2 separate regions of the Homo sapiens genome follow, and region 1 is linked to region 2. The links come from fine-mapping of genetic effects on gene expression. A gene starts in region 2. The other region holds a variant in brackets. All regions are shown on one strand. Distances are from middle to middle.

The links. PIP is the estimated chance that this variant, and not a neighbour inherited with it, causes the effect.
Region 1: its variant is the best candidate, but not a certain one, in a credible set for the expression of NT5C3A in monocytes after interferon gamma (Fairfax 2014, PIP 0.82).

The regions. Positions count from the first base shown.
Region 1 is chr7:32,988,428-32,998,654 of GRCh38, forward strand. It overlaps FKBP9 (FKBP prolyl isomerase 9), which reads left to right. Exons shown (of 10, transcript NM_007270.5): 6 at 80-225; 7 at 7,736-7,922. Among named protein-coding and RNA genes, the nearest start is that of FKBP9, 36 kb to the left of the region's middle. RefSeq lists an enhancer at 10,206-10,227. The variant G/A (reference allele first, on the strand shown) is at 5,301.
Region 2 is chr7:33,058,650-33,068,703 of GRCh38, forward strand. It overlaps NT5C3A (5'-nucleotidase, cytosolic IIIA), which reads right to left and starts at 4,127. Exons shown (of 9, transcript NM_001002010.5): 1 at 3,919-4,127. The coding sequence starts at 4,056. LOC124901610 (a long non-coding RNA gene) reads left to right here and starts at 4,536. Exons shown (of 4, transcript XR_007060279.1): 1 at 4,536-4,999; 2 at 5,380-5,498. RefSeq lists silencers at 3,762-3,821, 4,122-4,241 and an enhancer at 4,482-4,641.

The DNA of each region.
Region 1 (10,227 bases), 70 kb before region 2:
ATCTCTTTCCCAACTAATTTGCACAGCTGCTGTGGAGGCCCTCATGAATGACCTCTTTCTTTCCTTTCTTCTTTTCTAGCTACTCTCGGAACCGCACGTTTGACACGTACATTGGGCAGGGCTACGTGATTCCTGGGATGGATGAAGGTCTACTTGGTGTTTGCATTGGAGAAAAGCGAAGGATTGTGGTCCCGCCTCACCTGGGGTATGGAGAGGAAGGAAGAGGTGAGCATCAGCATCACCTGCCTTCCTCACTAGCTGTGGCTGCTTCCACATTGCTTGAAACAGGGCTTCTTTTTCTTTTTCTTCTTTCTTTTTGAGATAGGGTCTCCCTCTGTTGAACAGGCTGGAAAGTGTAGTGTGTGATCATCGTGTACTATGGCCTGGAACTCTTGGCCTCAAGTGATCCTCTTGCCTCAGCCTTCAGAGTAGCTGGCACTACAGGCACGCACCACCACACCCTGCACAGAACTTCTTGAGAGCCAAAATATTGAAGCTAAAGTCCAGCTTAAGACTGGAATTCCCAAATAGATTTAGTTTCTAGAGTTGTCCTGTTATTTCTCCTTGTTTCTCTGCCCATTTTCCTTTACCTTTTGAAAATGTTAAATCCTACACCAAAGTCAAAAGCACGTTATGGTGAATTCCACTTTGTTTTGCCAGTTGTTAACATTTTGCTATATTTGATCTCTTTTTATATTTATTTATTTATTTTGGGCTGAACCATTGAAAGTAAGTGCAAAAGCCCCTCTTTGGTTTTTGTTTTATATATTATAAAATTCACCCATTTAAGTATACAATTTAGTGACTTTTAGAACATTTAGTGGGTTATGTCACCATCACTATAATCCTGTTTTAGAACATTTTTGTCACCCTCATACCACACTTCCTTTTAAAAGTTACACAAATCATACATGTTGACTTTAGAAAAAGAAAATACAGTTAAGCAAAGAAATCCTGCCACCCAGAAATAAAGATTTTTTTTCCTTTTTTTCTTTTTTCTTTTTTTGAGATAGAGTCTCATTCTGTCACCCAGGCTGGAGTACAGTGGCACGATCTTGGCTCACTGCAACCTCTGCCTCCTGGGTTCAGGTGAGTCTCGTGCCTTAGCCTCCCAAGTAGCTGGGACTACAGGCATGTGCCACCACGCCTGGCTAATTTTTTTTTTTAATTTTCAGTAGAGATGGAGTTTCACTATGTTGGCCAGGCTAGTCTCAAACTCCTGGCCCAAGTGATCTGCCCACCTTGGCTTCCCAAAGTGCTGGGATTATAGATGTGAGCGCCATGCCATGCCAGAAACAAATATTGTTAATCTTAATCTGGTAGGCAGAATATTCAGCCCCTCCAAGTATCTATGTTCTAATCCCCAGAACCTGTGAGTATGTTACCTTACTTTATTTTGTTTTGAGACAAAGTCTTGTTCTGTTGCCCAGGCTGGAGTGCAGTGGTAAGATAAGCTCCTAACTCACTGCAGCCTCCAGCTTCTGTGTTAAAGTGATCCTCCTGCATCAGCCTCCTGAGTAGCTAGGACTACATGTGTGTGCTACCATGCACGGCTAATTCAAAAGCAATTTTTTTTTTTTTGTAAAGACAGACATGGTCTTGCTATGTTTCCCAGGCTTGTCTGGAACTCCTGAGCTCAAGCAATCCTCCCACCTTGGCCTTCTGAAGTGCTGGGATGACAGGTGTGAGCCACCATGCCTAGCCTCCTGTTACCTTATTAAAAGGGACTTTACAGATTTGATTAAGGATCTTGAGATAGGAATAGTATTCTAGATTATCCAGGTGGCCTCAAAATACTTGCAACAGTCTTTGTAAAAGGGAGGCAGGGGGTCAGACCGGGGAAAAAGTGCTAAACTGCTGACTTAGAAGATACAGAAGGAGGACCCTGTCAGGGAATGAAGGTGGCCCCGAGAGGCTGGAAAAGATGGAAACACATTCTCCCCGGCAGCCTCCAAAAGGAACATATCCCTAACAATACCTTGAATTTATGCTTCTGCCTTCCAGAATTAGGGGAATCCGTTTGCGTTGTTTTAAGCCAACAAGTTTGTGGTATTTTGCTGCAGCAACAGTAGGAAACAAATGCAGCCATGAAGTGAATGTCCTTCTGTACCTTTGAGTTTATGTATAGGTTTAAAAAAAAATGCCCACCTACACTAATCAATACGGACAAACATGGGATTGTCTATGCGTATTACTTTGTGATTTCTCTCTTCACCTAATTTGTGGTGAACAACAGATATGTTGTGAACAACTTTCTATGCTATGTATTTTAATGGCTGCTCCCTCGCTTAGCAATAGTTGATGCAGTATTTATTTTGTTTTTGTATTCTTTTGCTGATGGAGGCTGGCCTTGCTGGCTGTACATTTATTTTGTTAGTTCTGTTCTGTTTTTTTGTTGATACATCATATGTATCTTGAGAGTTTTCCCAGTAGTGTTCATCCCAGAGGATCCAAGAAACGTCAAGTTGGTTGGAAGGTAGGTTGTACAATGGAGAAATATTTTTTTCTCCCTGACTTAAATTTCTGATTGATTAAACCACAACAGATCACAGCTTAAGATCCATTCGACAGGGCTTTCTTCACACATCCTGCTTGTCTAGTGTCTTGATTCTCTATTGCTTTTTATCGTGTGGATTTCTACTTCTAGTCAAATATAAACAGAAACAGATAAATACTTTCTGAATGTTCTTGTTTCTTTATGGCCTGAGGACTAATCTTTCCTTTCTTTGAAAAGAATGCATTGATGGAAAACATTTGCTTAAATTACTTTTTTTCCTCTTGGCTTTCTATCAAGTATGAGACAGAGCTCTGCAAAGAATTATATAAGCCTCTGGGAAGCAGCCGAAGGCTCGTAAATTTTCTGGGCAATGAGACTCCTTCATCCTGAATCACGTTGCTGTGGGAGGAGGGCACCCTGAGTGACCCTGAGGTATAAACCCCAAGTGCTCTTGAGTGGAGTCTGCCTCTGTCCTCTCCTGATCAGCACCCTTGGCCTCTTTGTGGGGGTTACATAGGAGCTCGTGCTGATCCCTGAGGGGCTGACCCGAGAGGGGTCAGGATGCTGAAACTGTCTTCTTAGTGGCTTCTTCACTGCATACCACAGGGCCAGGCACATTGTGAATGTTTGGCAAATATTTGTGGAAGGAATGAATTGTGGGCTGACCGTGTGCTCTCAGCCTCTATCAGCATTTCATTCTGTCACAGCCATTTTCCCCTGCAAGATTGGTGGAGGGGAAAGGGTAGGCCTCCTGGGAGAGGTTCTGGATCTTTCTGCCATCTGCTTTGTTCCATGGGTCAGCCCTGAAATTAGGGCATTTGGATGGGTTTGCAGCCTCAAAGTGGAGAATGGATTCTGCCTGCGAGGATGTGTAAGCATCACTTCATCGATGGTTTGCTGTTACTCAACTTCCAGATTACCTTTTGAGCACCCTTTTAGGAAAGAGAGGAAAGTTAATAAATTACATTTTACCCACTGTGTGTCTGGGACTTCTTGCACATGAACTCATTCAAACCTGGAAACAGTCTTCTGAGGCATCATTACCCTCATTGTTTAGAAATATAATGAGGCCCAGAGAGTTCCACCCATGTGTCCAAGGCCACAATAGCTAATCCATGATGGAGCTGGAATTGGACCCAGGGCTCTCTGACCCATATGTGTCCTAGACAGACAGAAAGAATGAGTCCCCATTAGGTAGTGACTTGTTGATACCCATATGTGGAGAACCGAGACCTCAAACCAGAAGTCCTAGAGCTCTCAGAGGAAACACACCCGCTCAGAGGAAACCCACCTTCCTCAGAGGAAACCCACTCCCCTCAGAAGAAACCCACCCCCGCAGAGGAAACCCACCCCCTCAGAGGAAACCCACCCCCCTCAGAGGAAACTGACTCTCTGCAGAGGAAACCCACCCCCCGCAGAGGAAACCCACCCACCGCAGAGGAAACCCACCACCAGCAGAGGAAATCCACCCCCAGCAGGAGCTGCAGAGTTTCTTGGGTGGGCTATTGGCCGCTTTTAAGTTTTTCTCATCTGTATCTCTTCTGAGGGAGGCATCCTCATGGTGAGAACAGAATGATGACTTCTGCATTGGTTAAGGGTTTATACAGAGAGGAGGTTGGTGTTGGAGCCACGTTGGACTATTTCTGCCCGTTTGCTGGTCAGCACTCATTTCTATACTTAATCTACAAATAGCTTTGTGGAAGTCAGAGCAAGATAGAGGGATAGAGGTTCGAAGCCTTGGTGCTGCCTGGGGTAGGTGGGGTCTATGGTTCAAGGCTCTGATCTTCATTTTTGCAGGCGGAGAAACTCCATCTATCCATCCATCAAAGATTTATTGAGTTTCTTCATGACCAGGCCCTGCTCACGGTGTTAGGGATTCAGCAGAAAGAAACACAAACAAAACTTCCTACGCACACAGAGAGTGTTTCCTTGTTGACGCCCTCAATAATGTGTGTGCCTCAGAGGTTATCAGGCACCTGGGAGACTGACTCACGTTAACTTCCTAGAAGCTGACATACTCACCTGATGCTACATGGTTCCTTGACTGGGTGTGAATCGACCTCTACACTGGTTGGAATTCTTGTGCCTGGAATCCTCGGGGCCTGAGAGGCTGAGTTCATTTGACTGCTGACATCAGATCCCAGGGATGTGGGTGGTTCCAGATGCATTCCCTTTTGCCCTGGAGAAGGCCCTGCACCTGAATGCATCTTGGAGGGGAGATTATATTTGAATTGATAAAATTTGGTGACTGCTTAGCTCAGTGTTAGAAGTTTTTAAAATTTGTGGTAAAATATACTTAACATCTTTACCTTGTTAACCATTTTAAGTGTACAGTTTAGTGGCATCAAATATATTCACAATGTTGTATAACCATTACTATCATCTACACTCAGAACTCTTTCATCATCCCCAACATAAACCCATTACACAATAACTCCCGATTCCTCCCTCCTATCAACCTCTGACAACCACCTTTCTTTCTGTCTCTACCAATTTGCCTATTCTAAGTGCCTCACTTGAGTGGAATCATACAATATTTCTCTTTCTGTGTCTGTCTTATTTTACTTAGCATAATGTTTTCAAGGTCTATTTGTATTTTAGCATTTATCAAAATTTCAAGCTGGGCGCGGTGGCTCACGCCTGTAATCCCAGCACTTTGGGAGGCTGAAGCAGGCGGATAACCTGAGGTCAGGAGTTCAAGATCAGCCTGGCCAACATGGTGAAACCCTGTCTCTACTAAAAACACAAAAATTAGCCAGGTGTGGTGGTACGCGTCTGTAATCTCAGCTGAGGCAGGGAAATC[G/A]CTTGAACCCGGGGGACGGAGGTTGCGGTGAGCTGAGAACATGCCAATGCACTCCAGCCTGGATGACAGAGCAAGACTCCATCTCAAAAAAAAAAAATTAATTCCTCATTTCTGGCTAATAAATTTCATTCCTTTTTATTGCTGAATGAATATTCCATTGGATGTATATACTACATTTTGTTGATCAGTTCGTCTGGTGATGAACACTTAGGCTGTTTCTACTTTTTGTCTGTTGTGAATAATGCTTAATGCTTCTGTGAATATGAGTGTACAAATATCTGTTCGCATCTCCAGCTTCAATTCTTTTGTATATATACCCAAGAAAGATATTTTTATTTAATGTTTTCTTGAAATATAATTCACATACTATAAAAATAATCATGTTAAAGTTTACAATTTAGTTGTTTTTAGTATATTAACCAGGTAACATAACCATTACCTCTACCTAATTCCAGCACAGTTTCATCACTCCAAAAAGTAACCCATAACCATTAGCGGTCACTCTCCGTACCCTGTCCTCATCCATCCACTTCCCCCACGCTGGCAACAGGTAGTCTATTTCTTGTCTGTATGGATTTGCTTATGCTGGATGTTTCCATATCCCTGGAATCCTACAGTATGTGGCCTTTTGTGTCTGGCTTCTTTCACTTAGCATAATGTTTTCGGGTTCATTCCCAGGTGATTTTTAACAGGTTACCAAGGTTGAGGAACCATAGATCTGCCTCTGCAGACACCCACCCTGTCCATGTGTGTTAGCTTCCCACACAGAGCCATCCGTGGCCTGGCTTTGAGCAGCCTTCTGGCCAATGGCAGGCTGTACTTCCTGGTTCCTGTGGGAAGGAGCCTGCACCCCACTCCACCCACACCAGCAGCCCCTGTTTTGAGTGAGTAGCAGGCACCTGTGTTCTGCTATTAAAGCACACGCTTCTCAAATTATTACCTTTAACTTTGGCCAGCCCCAAAATTTGTACCTCCATTTTCTCAGGATTTTAATGAGAATTAAACAATACATGTTTAATTTAGAAGAATGCCTGGTACTCAATAAACGCCTATTAAATATGAGCGTGAGTGTGTTTCTATTAGAGATAGGAGAGAGACCAATCAAGAAGCAGACACAGAAAAGTACGTGTTGGGACAGGAGGTAAGGAGGGACTGTTGGAGTTTGTGTATCTCTATCTGAATTTTGTCATTAGCTGTGTTATTCTCTTGAATAAGTAATATCATGTCTGAATTTTTCATTTCTTTCTTTCTTTCTTTTTTGAGGACGGAGTCTCACTCTGTTGCCCAGGCTAGAGTACAGTGGTGCAATCCTAACTCACTGTAGCCTTGACCTCCTGGCCTCAAGCAATCCTCCTGCCTCAACCTCCCGAGTATCTGGGACTACAAGTGCTCACCACCACGCCCAGCTAATTTTTTTGTAGAGACATTTGGCTGTGTTGCCTAGGCTGGTCTCAAACCCCTGGCCTCAAGTGATCCTCCCACCTCAGCCTCCCAGAGTTGAGATTATAGGCATGAGCCACCACCATACCTAACCTGAGTTGGTTTTTTTATATGTAAAATGCTGATGATAATAAAATATGTCCTTGACTCTAGGTAACATGATTTTAAAATATTTTACATTTAAACTTCTCTGAAATGATTTGGGCTGGGGGATGTATTACAACTGATGCATATGTTTAAGTGTCCCCCACGCCCCTGGGAAGCTGTCGTTAAATTCCTGGGGTTATGGCCATGCCTACCCCATAAGGTTGCTGCAGGGATTTAAAGGGAAAATGTAGGTGAAAAATACTTTGGCAAACTGTAAAACATTATTCAGATGTGAGCTACTGTCTTCAAAATTGGAAATTATGGAAAAGTTAATAAATAATTTAGTATAGAACAAATAGGATGTATTCTAAAAGCACCTTGTGACTGTTAGGTGTATGATCATAAGGGGCCAATTTTGGGGGAGAGGTGTTTTTTTCTTTATGAAGTTTATGTTATGTTTTTCTTGAGCAGTGGTAGGACATTGGAGTGATTTCACTCTACGGCTGATTTTCTCACCCCACCTCTTACTTCCAGTGGGCAAGGGGCAAGTATTAATTTGGCTGGGTTTGAGTTTCCTCATCTGTGATCAACTTAGCCACTCATCTTTCAGGCTCAACGATTCCATGGGGCAATAGTCCATAGTCTTGAATTTTAGTCCAAACTGTGCTCATTACAGGCTGTGAGACCCACGGCAAATCTGTGCCTCCGTTTATCCACCTGTAAAATGAGGATGAGGTTACATCTAACAGCCCTTTCAGCGTCAGTCTTGGAGTCCTCCTAGGGTTCTGTATCTGGGTGCCCGTTTTCCTCACTTGGAGGGCCTTGAGGACATACCTGGTGACACTGGGGAGGCCCATGTGCTGCAGCCTGCAGGGGTCATTCATTAATTCCCCGTGTCTGTCCTTTAGGGAATATCCCCGGCTCGGCTGTGCTGGTGTTTGACATCCATGTGATCGACTTCCACAACCCTTCGGACTCCATCAGCATCACCTCCCACTACAAACCCCCTGACTGCTCAGTGCTGAGTAAGAAGGGAGATTACCTCAAATATCACTACAATGCCTCACTTCTGGATGGGACCCTGCTGGACTCCACGTAAGGGCAACCAGAATGGTGTGGGAGTGAGCCTGGAGGGTGACAGTTGCATGCTCCCACCATCCTCCTCTCTTGGGTAGATGCTGGTTGAGAGCTTTTATCTCCATGCTGCCCCACTGCATAGCTCGTGGCTGCATCACTGCTCAGGTGCATTGTGTTAAGAGTTTCCTATTAATGGTCTTGCCCTGCTGCAGGTCATTTTTCACCCCATGAAATTGTCTTTCTGAAAAGCAGATCTCATCGTATAACTGCTATCTTTCCTTCCTTCCTTCCTTCCTTCCTTCCTTCCTTCCTTCCTTCCTTCCTTCCTTGCTCCCTCCCTCCCTCCCTTCCTCTTCTTTCCTTTCTTTCTCTTTCTCTCTTTCTCTCTTTTTTTCCTTCCTTCCTTCCTTTCTTTCTTTTTTTTTTTTTTTTGATAAAGTCTCACTCTTTTTTTTTTTTTTTTTTTTTTTTTTTGAGACGGAGTCTCGCTCTGTCGCCCAGGCCGGACTGCGGACTGCAGTGGCGCAATCTTGGCTCACTGCAAGCTCCGCTTCCCGGGTTCACGCCATTCTCCTGCCTCAGCCTCCCTAGTAGCTGGGACTACAGGCACCCGCCACCGCGCCTGGCTAATTTTTTGTATTTTTAGTAGAGACGGGGTTTCACCTTGTTAGCCAGGATGGTCTCGATCTCCTGACCTCATGATCCACCCGCCTCGGCCTCCCAAAGTGCTGGGATTACAGGCGTGAGCCTCCGCGCCCGGCCAAGTCTCACTCTTTCACCCAGGCTGGAGTGCAGTGGTGCTATCTCGGCTCACTGCAACCTCTGCCTTCCAGGTTCAAGTGATCCTCCCGCCTCAGCCTCCCAAGTAGCTGGGATTGCAGGCACGCACCACTATACTTGGCTAATTTTGTTTACTTTTTAGCAGAGAGAAGGTTTTGCCATGTTGCCCTGGCTGGTCTCAAACTCCTGGGTTCAGGTGATCCTCCTGCCTCAGTTTCCCAAAGTGGTAGGATTACAGGTGTGAGTCACTGCACCTGACCCAGGCTAATTTTTAAAATTTTTTTAGAGATGGGGGGGGTCTCACTATGTTGCCCAGGCTGGTCTCGAACTCCTGACCTCAAATGATCCTCCCCTCTTGGCCTCCCAAAGTGCTGGAGTTACAGATTTGAGCCGTCATGCCCAGCCGAACTGCTTTCTTTAAAAATTGATGCACAGAGGCTGGGTGCGGTGGCTCATGCCTGTAATCCTAGCACTTTGGCAGGCCAAGGTGGGCAGATCACGAGGTCAAGAGATCAAGACCATCCTGGCCAACTTGGTGAAACCCCATCTCTACTAAAAATACAAAAATTAGCCGGGCGTAGTGGCGGGCAAATGTAATCCCAGCTACTCATGAGGCTGAGGCAGGAGAATCTCTTGAATCTGGGAGGTAGAGGTTGTAGTGAGCCGAGATAGCACTGCTGCACTGCAGCCTGAGCAACAGAGTGAGACTCTGTCTCCAAAAAGAAAGAAAAAGAAAAGACCCTATGGATATACTCTTCAGAGCTCTCCCTCTCGGTATGGGATCCTGTATGCTAATGCATTTAATGTATTTCAACAACTCTAAAGAGCGTGATGGAAACATTTCATGTATCTCTGACCAAGTAAAAACGCTAACTGATGACATACTGTCAGTCATAAAATGTATCCTAATTATAGAAAGGTTAAACTGTGAAAAAATATGCATTTTAGAATCAGTGAAATATGTGCTAGGCTTCCAGGGCCCAGATGTACAGGGACCTGGCTTACAACAGACCTTGCAAAGAAATCCCAACCACTGACTATTAGAAGCTAGCGGGAGGCAGGGCAGCAGGGAAGGGGCATGGCTTGTAGTGCTTTTGTGGATCAAGTGAGCTCCTAAGAGTGAAAATGGTCCATGAGGTTAGAAGGGTCTGTAAGGTCCGTGGCTGCTGTCACTGCTCCTGCTGATGTTCATATTCCTGTCCGCTGATCCTGAGGCTGAGGAAAGGGGAAGTGGGTGTGGGGAATGAACAAAGGAATTCCTTCTCGGAGGCTCCAGGATCTGCTTCTCACGTGGGGCGGGGAGAGTCAGTCTCCCTGCCTCCTGCTTGTGTTTGAAGGACTCATAACATCCTGGCAGAGCACTCAGGAGCCACATGAGCCAGAGCTCCTTATCAGGAAGTGCATTTTGTACTCTGAGAGCCTCTGTATTACATGTAAATCTGCAGCAGAAGAGTAGCGGCTGGCGTCCCTGCTGGTGTCTTCCTGGTGTGAGCTTCAGAATACTGGGCTAATGGAAAGCTTGGCCAGCACCTGCCTATCTGGT
Region 2 (10,054 bases):
CCAGAGTAGTACACTCTTTCAGAAAGACAGAGATGTTCCGTATTCCCCTCAAAAGGCATCTGTCCACATCTCCCCTAGAACTTTGCTAGACTGATTATTTTTTCTCCTCCTCTTATCTTTAACCATTTGCTTTTCACTACTCCTCTGCCCACCAACATACTTCTGTGCCAACCATTCGAAAAACAAAACAAAATACCCATCCTCAGCACAACTACTTCCTCTGCCCAAAAGTCATTTTTTAGTTGTCTTCACATCATTGTTTTACCAACGGCGGCTCAACCCACTGCTACCATAGCCTTTCAGACCAACTTCTGATCTTGTCATCAACTTCTGACCTTAGAGAAGATGGACATAGCTAATTCTGCCCCTTCTTTTGGAAACATTTCCTGTTATTCCACCTCTGACAGCTTTCAGCATCTTTACTGAACTTGGCATTGCCAAGTTTTCTGTTTTCTTCTCGCTGTAAAACTATGGATGAGAAATAATATCCAGCTCCACACTGGCCATTGAGAGGCTAGACATTAGGGAAAATATTATTTCTAGCCTCAATTTATCTTTAGAGCTCCAGCCTTCCATTTTCAGTTGCTATTGCTAATAATAACAATAAGTAATGTATATATTGGTTACTCTGGGCCAGGCACTTTTCTAAGCACTTTAAATATATTAACTATTTCATGAACATTTCTAGTTGGTCATTCCTTGATCATCTCAAATTTCATATGACTTAAAGTGAACTTGTGATTCCACATTTCCCTTACCTCCTGGCTACTTTCCAAACCTGCCATTTTTTCCTTCTCTTCATCTTGGCTAATAATATAACCAGAATCAGCAGTTACCTGATAATCTTAAAGTTATTTCTCCTTACAATTAATCCCTTTATCTAATGATCACAAATAATAAGCTCTGAAAGAAAGCAATTATGTTCTAGGCACTGTGTTATCTCATTTAATCTTCACAACCTATGAAGTAGGTACTATCATTATCTCCCAATTAATAGATGAAAAATGGGAGATTCAGAGAGGTTAAGTAATTTGCCCAAGGTCACATGGCTTGATAAATGAGAAAAACTAGATTCAAAACTAGGTTTGTATGACTCTACAGTCTGTGCACAAAGTCCCGTTGATTTTATCTCGGAAATGTTTGTCTCCTGATCCCTTATTTCCATACCTGTTGCTAGTGCCATAGTTTAAGATCTCTAATCATCTTTCGCAAGCAATACTACCAACCTCCTAAATTTATTTCTTTCCAGGATCTTCCCTTCCAGTCCACCTTATCTCATCTTCATAAAACATACTGTTGGGTTTTTTGTTTCTCTGTTTTGAGACTCTGGGTGACTCTGTCACCCAAGCTTGAGTGCAATGGTGTGATCACGACTCACTGCAGCCTCGACCACCTTGACTGAAGAGATTTCACCTTCGGCCCCTAAGTAGGTGGGACTACACTACAAGTGTGTGCCACTGCACTGGCTAAAATCTTTATTTTCTGTAGAGAAAGGGTCTCCCTATGCCGCCCAGGCTGGTCTCGAACTCCTGGGCTCAAGGGATCCTCCCGCCTCAGCCTCCAAAAGTGCTGGGATTGCAGGCGTGAGCCACTGTACCCTGCCAAAGCAAACCTTTGATGATCCTTTGTTGCAAAATAAAGAGCAAACTCTTTATAATGGCTTTACAAAATTCCTTTACAATTCAGTTTCTTGATCCCATTCCGTATCTTGCTTTCCTTCTTTTTTTTTTTTTTTTTTTTTTTTTTGAGACAGGGTTCTCCCACCTCACCCTCCCAAAGTGCTGGGATTACAGGTGTGAGCCACCATGCCTAGCCATGACTGGCTTCTTCTGTACATTAATCTTGCTGCCCTATGGGATATTTCAGCTGTAGCATACACAACCCACTAGCAACTTCCTCATGTCTCTCAATTAAAAACTCTTGCAAGACAATGCATCATTTTGACCAAGTCCCAGAAGTTATTGGTTTTCTTAGCCAGTTAGATAGGCCCAACTTGGTTAGGTAGTTAACTCCGTTAGCTGTGACCAATATGAGCTATGTCTGTTGGACATCATGGGTTTGCAGAGATTTTTCTGAGGGAGGAGGGCAGAGGATGGGCAGAGCAGACCTACATTATTACAGAAAGATGGAACTAGGATTCCAACCCAGGTCTTCTGACCCCCAGTCAAATACTTCTTCCACTTGAAGAAGCAACCTATTAAAATTAAAAAAGTTAACATGAAGCTCTTTTCACTTTTTCCATTGAAAAGCTACTAGCAGGCTACACATATATTACAATCTGAATTAATATACTATGCATACATGTAAATATTGACTGATTTCTTTAGTACCAATAAGTTGGTATTCTAGATAGGTCTTCATTATTTGTCACAAAGATAGCAAACTGTTCCTATGATGGTATCATTGAAGGATTTTGTGAACACACTGATTTTTAACCTTACTTGGCTTAGATAAGTGGTATACAGACCAATCCATAGTTTAAGCACAGGCAGGGAGATATGGCAACTCGGTTTTTTCCCCTACATAGGCATTATTAACCTTGGGCAAAAGAAAGCCAAGTTTTCTAAGCAGGAAAGCAACAAAAGCAAAATGAAACTTCTGAGTTAAAACCATTTGCTGCTGTGGGCATACAGATGTGGGACAAATGAATTTTAATAAGCCTTTAGAATTATTAAGACCCTTTAAGAATAAATTAATTCAAAATTAGGGAATATTATTGGAATATGAGACAAGTGGGAATTAACTTTTTTTTTTAAGAGACAGGGTCTCGCTATGTTTCCCAGGCTGGAGTGCAGTAGCTATCCACAGGTGTGATTATAACCTTGAACTCCCAGACTCCAGTGATCTTCCTCTCAGCCTCCCAAATAGCTGGGACACTGGCTAATTTTAATTATGCAAATACATCTGTATTCAACCTGGGGTCAGTACAACCAATAGGACAAATCGTGTCTTTCGTCAGTTGGAACATATTGCAGGTGCTCAGAAATTCCAAGTATTACACCCTAAAATGATATTATTTAGTGTAGATTTTAAATTTTTTTCTATCATAAATCATCTGACCCTAGATGTTCACATGTATAGCACACGGTCAGGCGTATACCCAGGATTATGCATTTCAGGAAATACATAAGCGTGCAAGTTTGTGCAAGAATTGTCTTCCTGAGTGGGTTCTAATTAAAATACAAAACGAAACTAAATATCCTCATTTTTGAAACAATTACTTATAATGTATCTCAAAGGGAATTCTTGAGACACCCTCTTCAATAAAAAATTAAATTCGAAAATGTATACAAGAGCTTTGGGAGTTAAGATGAAAACAAAGATATTTCGTGGGAGTTTTGAGACAAGAAGGAATACATTCAAATACAAAATAAACTATCCTGAATTTCTCCTGGATTGCCATTCTTGTAAAATTTTAGATATTGCACATTTTCATAATCTAACTCACGGCAGCCCCAACATAAAACTAGTCCTCTGCGGGAATTGCAACTAGATTAGCGGCAACGGTTTGACGCGGATCCGGGGGGAGGGCGGGAGCAAGGCAGGGAGAGAAGGAGCCACCTGCCCAGGACATGCAGCTTATCTCTAGAGAAACGGGTTTTGCAGCACAAAGTAGCCTGTGTCCGATTCATCTATTTTCTGCCTTGTTCCTTCAAACGGAAACCTAACAAAGACCACGGGCAGCCAAGGGCCGCAGCCGGGGACCCAACCCTGGTCACCAAGCCCGCGGAGTGGCCGCACGCGGGGCGGCCGGGTCCCCCAAGCTGCGCGTCCCGAGCTAGCGAGATCCCAGCCTGACAGGCGACGCCGGCAGCTCCCCGTCGCGACCGAACAGCGGCCCAGCACAGGCTGCCGAGGCCAGCGGACGGCCCAGCCGGCCCCTCGCGTGCTCTGGGCGCGCCGAGCCTCCACACTCACCATCTCGATGATCTTGGTCTTCCGCCCCGTCTTCCTCTTCAAGGTGAATATGTACTGAGCCAGCACCACCCCCGCCACCAGGGCGCACACGCTGGCGCTCGCTACCGCGCCCACCCTCGCCACGGCCGCGCGGTCCATGGACGGGGCCCTCATGCGCGTCCAAGCAGGAAAAAAACAGGCAGCTCGCGTAGACTGCGAGTCTCGGAAGCGCGGGATCCCAGAGCATCACGGACGAGCCCGCGACGCCCCGCCCCGCGCAGCGACGCCCCGCCCCGCGCAGCTCCGCCCCCACGAAGCCCCACCCACACGCCATCGATGGGAGAGGCCAGGACGCGGCGGGAGGGGTGTGGCCTGTGCCCGGAGCCCAGGCTGGAGGCGGCCTTCAGCAGACTCAGGGTCTCACGAGCTGCTGTCAGGGCAGGGCAGAGTATTGCGGTAATTATCCTTCTCTGCTAATGAGGATTAGGCCGTGGTTCGCTCGAGCCCCGCCCCAGTAGAAATCTAATTCCAACTGCGGCCCGCTAAGAAGTCGGTCTCCGCCTTCGCGCCTCAGCCCCTCTGGACTCCGACCCCCAGAAGGCTGCGCGGCACGGTGTGACCTGCGCAGTGGCGTCCGTTCTAAGTGCTATAACAACAGGGGGAAGATGGCTCAGAGTTAGGCTGGAGAGGGGCGGTGTCCCTTCCGCCGCAGCCGCGGGGTTTCTGCTACATCCCATTCGCCACCTCCGCCATCCTTTTTTCTGTGTGAGCAGAAGGGCTTGCAGTTGTTCTCTCCTGCCTAGTGTCTTCCAAGGGATAGATGCCATTTCTTCTGCTGGTCTCTGGGGGTGAGGAGGGGCGCAGGGGAGCTTCTTGGGGGAATCGCTCCAACTCTGTGGAGCTGGTGGTGCTGCCTGGTGGGGCTCTCTCTGCCCAGGACGTGGAACAACTTTCAGCCGGAGGACTAGAGGAAATAGTTGTAGGGGAGGAAAAATTGTTTCCTTCTAGCCTTTTAGGTCATTTGGCTGGTCTACAAATTAAATTGATGTAAGACAGAGGAACATGAGAAAAACGATTTGTCGACCGAAAGGTGAAATAACAGGTACTAAAACTTAAAGAAATCATGGTTAGTTTTATTACTCGGCCAAGTTTGAGGACTTAAGCCTGGGAACACAGACTCAGTATAGACCGAGAACGTGTCCCAAAGTAAGTTAGCTGGGAGTATAACCTGAAGAAGACTGAGTTTTAATACCCAGAATATTTGAGTATCAATATCTAGACTACTGTGTCATTTTGTCGCCAAAGTAATTTTTTATGAATCCAGTTTTGCACCAAATACCAATATGACTTAAATGTTGTCTGATTGTGAGGCCTAAGATGGTCACAGTCTCATTTATCTTTCTTCCTCAACAAAAACATTTTCCATATATTACATATTATTTTGAATGGGTAGAGACTAAAGCCACGTTTCTATAATTTCAGGATTTTAAACATTTTGTAGACGATAACATTCGTCTTGAAGCTGTGGACAATCTAAAACAGAAATGGAGTTCCAAATTTTGTTTTTGTAATATGGCCCGTCAACTGCACATGGGAAGAATGTGGGTACTCTGAAATATGATTTCTATTTTAACTAGTTATACTATATCATAGGTCTGATTATCATCTATATGAGATGTTAAAGCTGTAGGAGTATAGTCAATTAGACTACAAACCCTGGTAGTAAATTTCCAGGAGGAAAGGGGTCCATATGTTTTTTATAAGTGTAAACCTTGTGTTTCTGAATCTAAGAGGGTTGGCCATGTTTGGAGACTATTTCAGCTTCTATGTGAATTAACATATTAATTATTCTTGTTGAAAGACATGGAAGATCTTGATATGGTTTGACCCTGTATCCTCACCCACATCTTATTTTGAATTATACTCCCATAATTCCCATGTGTTGTGGGAGGGACCTGGTGGGAGATAATTGAATCATTGGGGTGTTTTCTTCCATACTGTTTTCGTGGTAGTGACTTAAGTATCAGGAGATCTGATGGTTTTATCAGGGTTTTCGCTTTTGCGTCTTCCTCATTCTCTCTTTGTCTGCTCCCATCCATGTAAGATGGGACTTGCTCCCTGCCTTCCACTATGATTGTGAGGCTTCCCCAGCCACGTGGAACTGGAAGTCCAATTAAACCTCTTTCTTTTGTAAATTGCGCAGTCTGGGGTATGTCTTTATCAGCAGCCTGAAAACAGACTAGTACAGATCTCTACACGGAGAACTACAAAATACTGATGAAAGAAATCAGGCCAGGTGAGGTGGCTGGTGCCTGTAATCTCAGCACTTTGGAAGCCCAAGGTTGGGGGATTGCTTGAGGCCACAAGTTTGAGACCAGTCTCGGCAACATAGCGAGACCCTGTCTCTACAATCCCTGAAAAACCAAAGAAATTAGCTGGGCATGGTGCTGCGTTTCACTCTCGTCCGTGTGAAGAGACCACCAAACAGGCTTTGTGTGAGCAACAAGGCTGTTTATTTCACCTGGGTGCAGGCGGGATGAGTCCAAAAGAGAGTCAGTGAAGGGAGATAGGGGTGGGGCCGTTTTGTAATATTTGGGTAGGTAAAGGAAAATGTGTTAACAGTCAAAGGGGGGTTGTTCTCTGGCAGGCAGGGGTGGGGGTCGCAAGGTGCTCACTGGGGGAGCTTTTGAGCCAGGATGAGCCAGGAGAAGGAATTTCACAAGGTAATGTCATCAGTTAAGGCAGGGACCCACCATTTTTCACTTCTTTTGTGGTGGAATGTCATCAGTTAAGGCAGGAACAGGCCATTTTCACTTCTTTTGTGATTCTTCACTTGTTTCAGGCCATCTGGGCATATAACTTGCAGGTCACAGGGTATATGATGGCTTAGCTTGGGCTCAGAGGCCTGACACTGCATGCCTGTAGTCCCAACTACTCAGGAGGCTGAGGTGGGAGGATTGCTGGAGCCTAGCAGTTGGAGGCTGCAGTGAGCTATGATTATGGACTCCAGCCTTGGTGAAAAGGTCAGGAGATCGAGAACATCCTGGCTAACACGATGAAACCCCGTCACTACTAAAAATACAAAAAATTAGCTGGGCGTGGTGGCGGGCGCCTGTAGTCCCAGTTACTCGGGAGGCTGAGGCAGGAGAATGGCATGAACCCAGGAGGTGGAGCTTTCAGTGAGCCGAGATCATGCCACTGCACTCCAGCCTGGGCAACAGAGCAAGACTGTGTCTCAAAAAAAAAAAAAAAAAAAAAAAAAAAGTGAGACCCTGTCTCAAGAAAAAGGAAAAGAATGGAAGAAAGGGAAGGAAAGAAGGAAAGAAAAAAAGAAAGAAAGAATAGATGACACAAACAAATGGAAAAAACGCCTCATGCTCCAGGATTAGAAGAATTAATGTCATCAAAATGACCATACTGCCCAAAGCAATTCAAATTCAACAATACAGATTCAGCAAATACAGATTCAGGAATACATATTCAGCAAATACAGATTCAACACAATACCTGGCAAACTACCAATGTCATTCTTCATGGAATTAGAAAAAACAATCCTAAAATTCATGTGGAACCATAAAAGGGCCCAAATAGACAAAGCAATCCTAAACAAAAGGAGTAAAGCTGGAGGTATCACATTTTGACTTAAAATTATACTACAAAGCCATAGTAAACAAAACAGCATGGTACTGGTATAAAAATAGACATGACACATAGATCAATGGAACAAAATAGAGAAACTAGAAATAAATGCCCCATATTTGCAGCAAACTGATATTTGACAAAATATACACTGGCAAAAGGACACCCTATTCAATAAATTGTGCCGGGATAATTTTAGAGCCATATGCAGAAGAATGAACCTGGACCCCCGTCTCTCACCGTATACAAAAATTAACCAAGATGGATTTAAGACTTAAATGTAAGACCTGAAACTATAAAAATCCTAGAAGAAACCCTGGGAAAAACTCTTCCGGACATTGGCCTAGGCGAAGAACTTATGACTAAGTCCTCAAAAGGAAACAACAAAAATGAAAAACAAAAGTTGACAAATGGGACTTCATTAAGCTAAAAAGCTTCTGCAATGCAAAACAAATAATCAACAGACTAAACATACAGCCTATAGAATGGGAGAAAATATTTGCAAAGAATGCATGTGACAAAGGGTGACTATTCAAAATCTATAAGAAACTCAAACTACTCAACAAGAAAAACCATTAAAAAGTGACCATACTGCCCTTGACATGAAGGACAACATTTTTCAAAAGAAGACATACAAATGGCCCACAAGCATATGAAAAAATGCTCTACAACACTGGTCATCAGAGAAATGCAAATCAAAACCACAATATGATATCGTTTCACACCAGTCAGAATGGCTTTTAAAGTCAAAACACAACAGATGCTGGTGAGGCCATGGGGAAAGGAGAATGCTTAAACACTATTGGTGGGAATGTAAATTAATTCAGCCACTGTGGAAAGCAGTTTGGACATGTCTCAAATAACATAAAACAGAACTACAAGTCAACCCAGCAATCTAATTACTGGGTATATATTCAAAAGAAAAGAAATTATTCTGCCAAAAAGACACATGCATCACAGCACTATTCACAAGAGCAAAGACATCGAATCAACCTACGTGTCCATCAACAATGGATTGGATAAGGAAAATGTGGTACATGGACATGAGTCAATACTACACAGCCATAAAAAGAACAAAATCATGTCATATGCAGCAACATTAATGCAGCTGGAGGCCATTATCCTAAGCAAATTAATGCAGGAACAGGAAACCAAGTGCTGCATGTTCTCACTTATAAATGGGAGCTAAACATTGAGTACTCATGGACATAAAGATATATATATTATATATATTTTATATAATATAAATTATATAAAATATATAATTTATATATTATATAAGTATATATAAAATATATATTTTATATATAACATTATATTTGTATATATAATATACAATATCTTTTCAGGCAGCTGCCTAGCCTTTATTTTATATATTTTATATGTTATATAGTATATATTATATATAATATATAAATATGTGTTTTATATATTTATAATATGTAATATGTAATATATTTATATATATAATTTATAAGTATATAAAACACTTATATATAAATATATATATTTATATATATAGATGGAACTGCAGACCATTTTCTTTAGTGAAATAACTCAGAAACAAAATTAATTTTTTTTCTCACTGACAAGTGGGAGTCAAACAATGGGTGCACATAAACATACAGAGTGGAATAATAGACATTGGAGACTCCAAGTGGTGCAAGGGTAGGGGGGCAGGATAAAATACCACCTATTAGATACAATGTATATTATTCTGGTGATGGGTGCACTAAATGCCCACATTTTACCACTACTCAATATATCCATGTAACACAACTGCACTTGTACCCCTAAATCCATAAAAAAAAAAAAGAACTAAAAAAGTGAGTTTGGACACATGCTCTTTTTCACTATTGGACCTTAGCATTTTCCCCATAAATTGAGCAGTTTGATTTACCCGCTTTAAAAATAGCATCATTATCTTTTCAGGCAGCTGCCTAGCCTTTATTTTTTTCCTGGAAGAGTACTTCCTTTAGCTTAAATTTAGGTCAGTAAGTATTGATTTTTTTTGAAAATGCCTTTTTTCATTATATGCACTCTTGACTTGCCCTAACACCCCCAATCCTGCACCTGTTGCCCCTAAGGATCTCTACCTTACTTGGCCAGTGTTGCCATATCCACCAAACATGTTGTTGCCACTGGGCATTTATGGCAGAGGTGCAGTTTGAGTATAAGTTATGGACCCAAAAATGTTGAGTGTTCCAAATCAACATGAGGTGAATGGTAGCTACTCCTAAATAGAGCTTAGTCTGAGTGTGTCATAAGACTTCCCATATTTTTTCTGAGTGAGTCCTAAATTACCATCTAGTGGGATCCTAGTCCATTAAGTGATTCCTACTGTGTGATTTTAGGTTACATTATACTGTTTTTTTTCCAACCACAAAAGCAAGGTTTCTGTCCCCTCAGTCAAGAGATACTGTGACAGGGCACACAGGTTGCTGCTGTCTTTTCTTATACCTGGGGACCTTGCACAGTAACTGATACCTATATTTATAGAAACACAATGATCCATTTG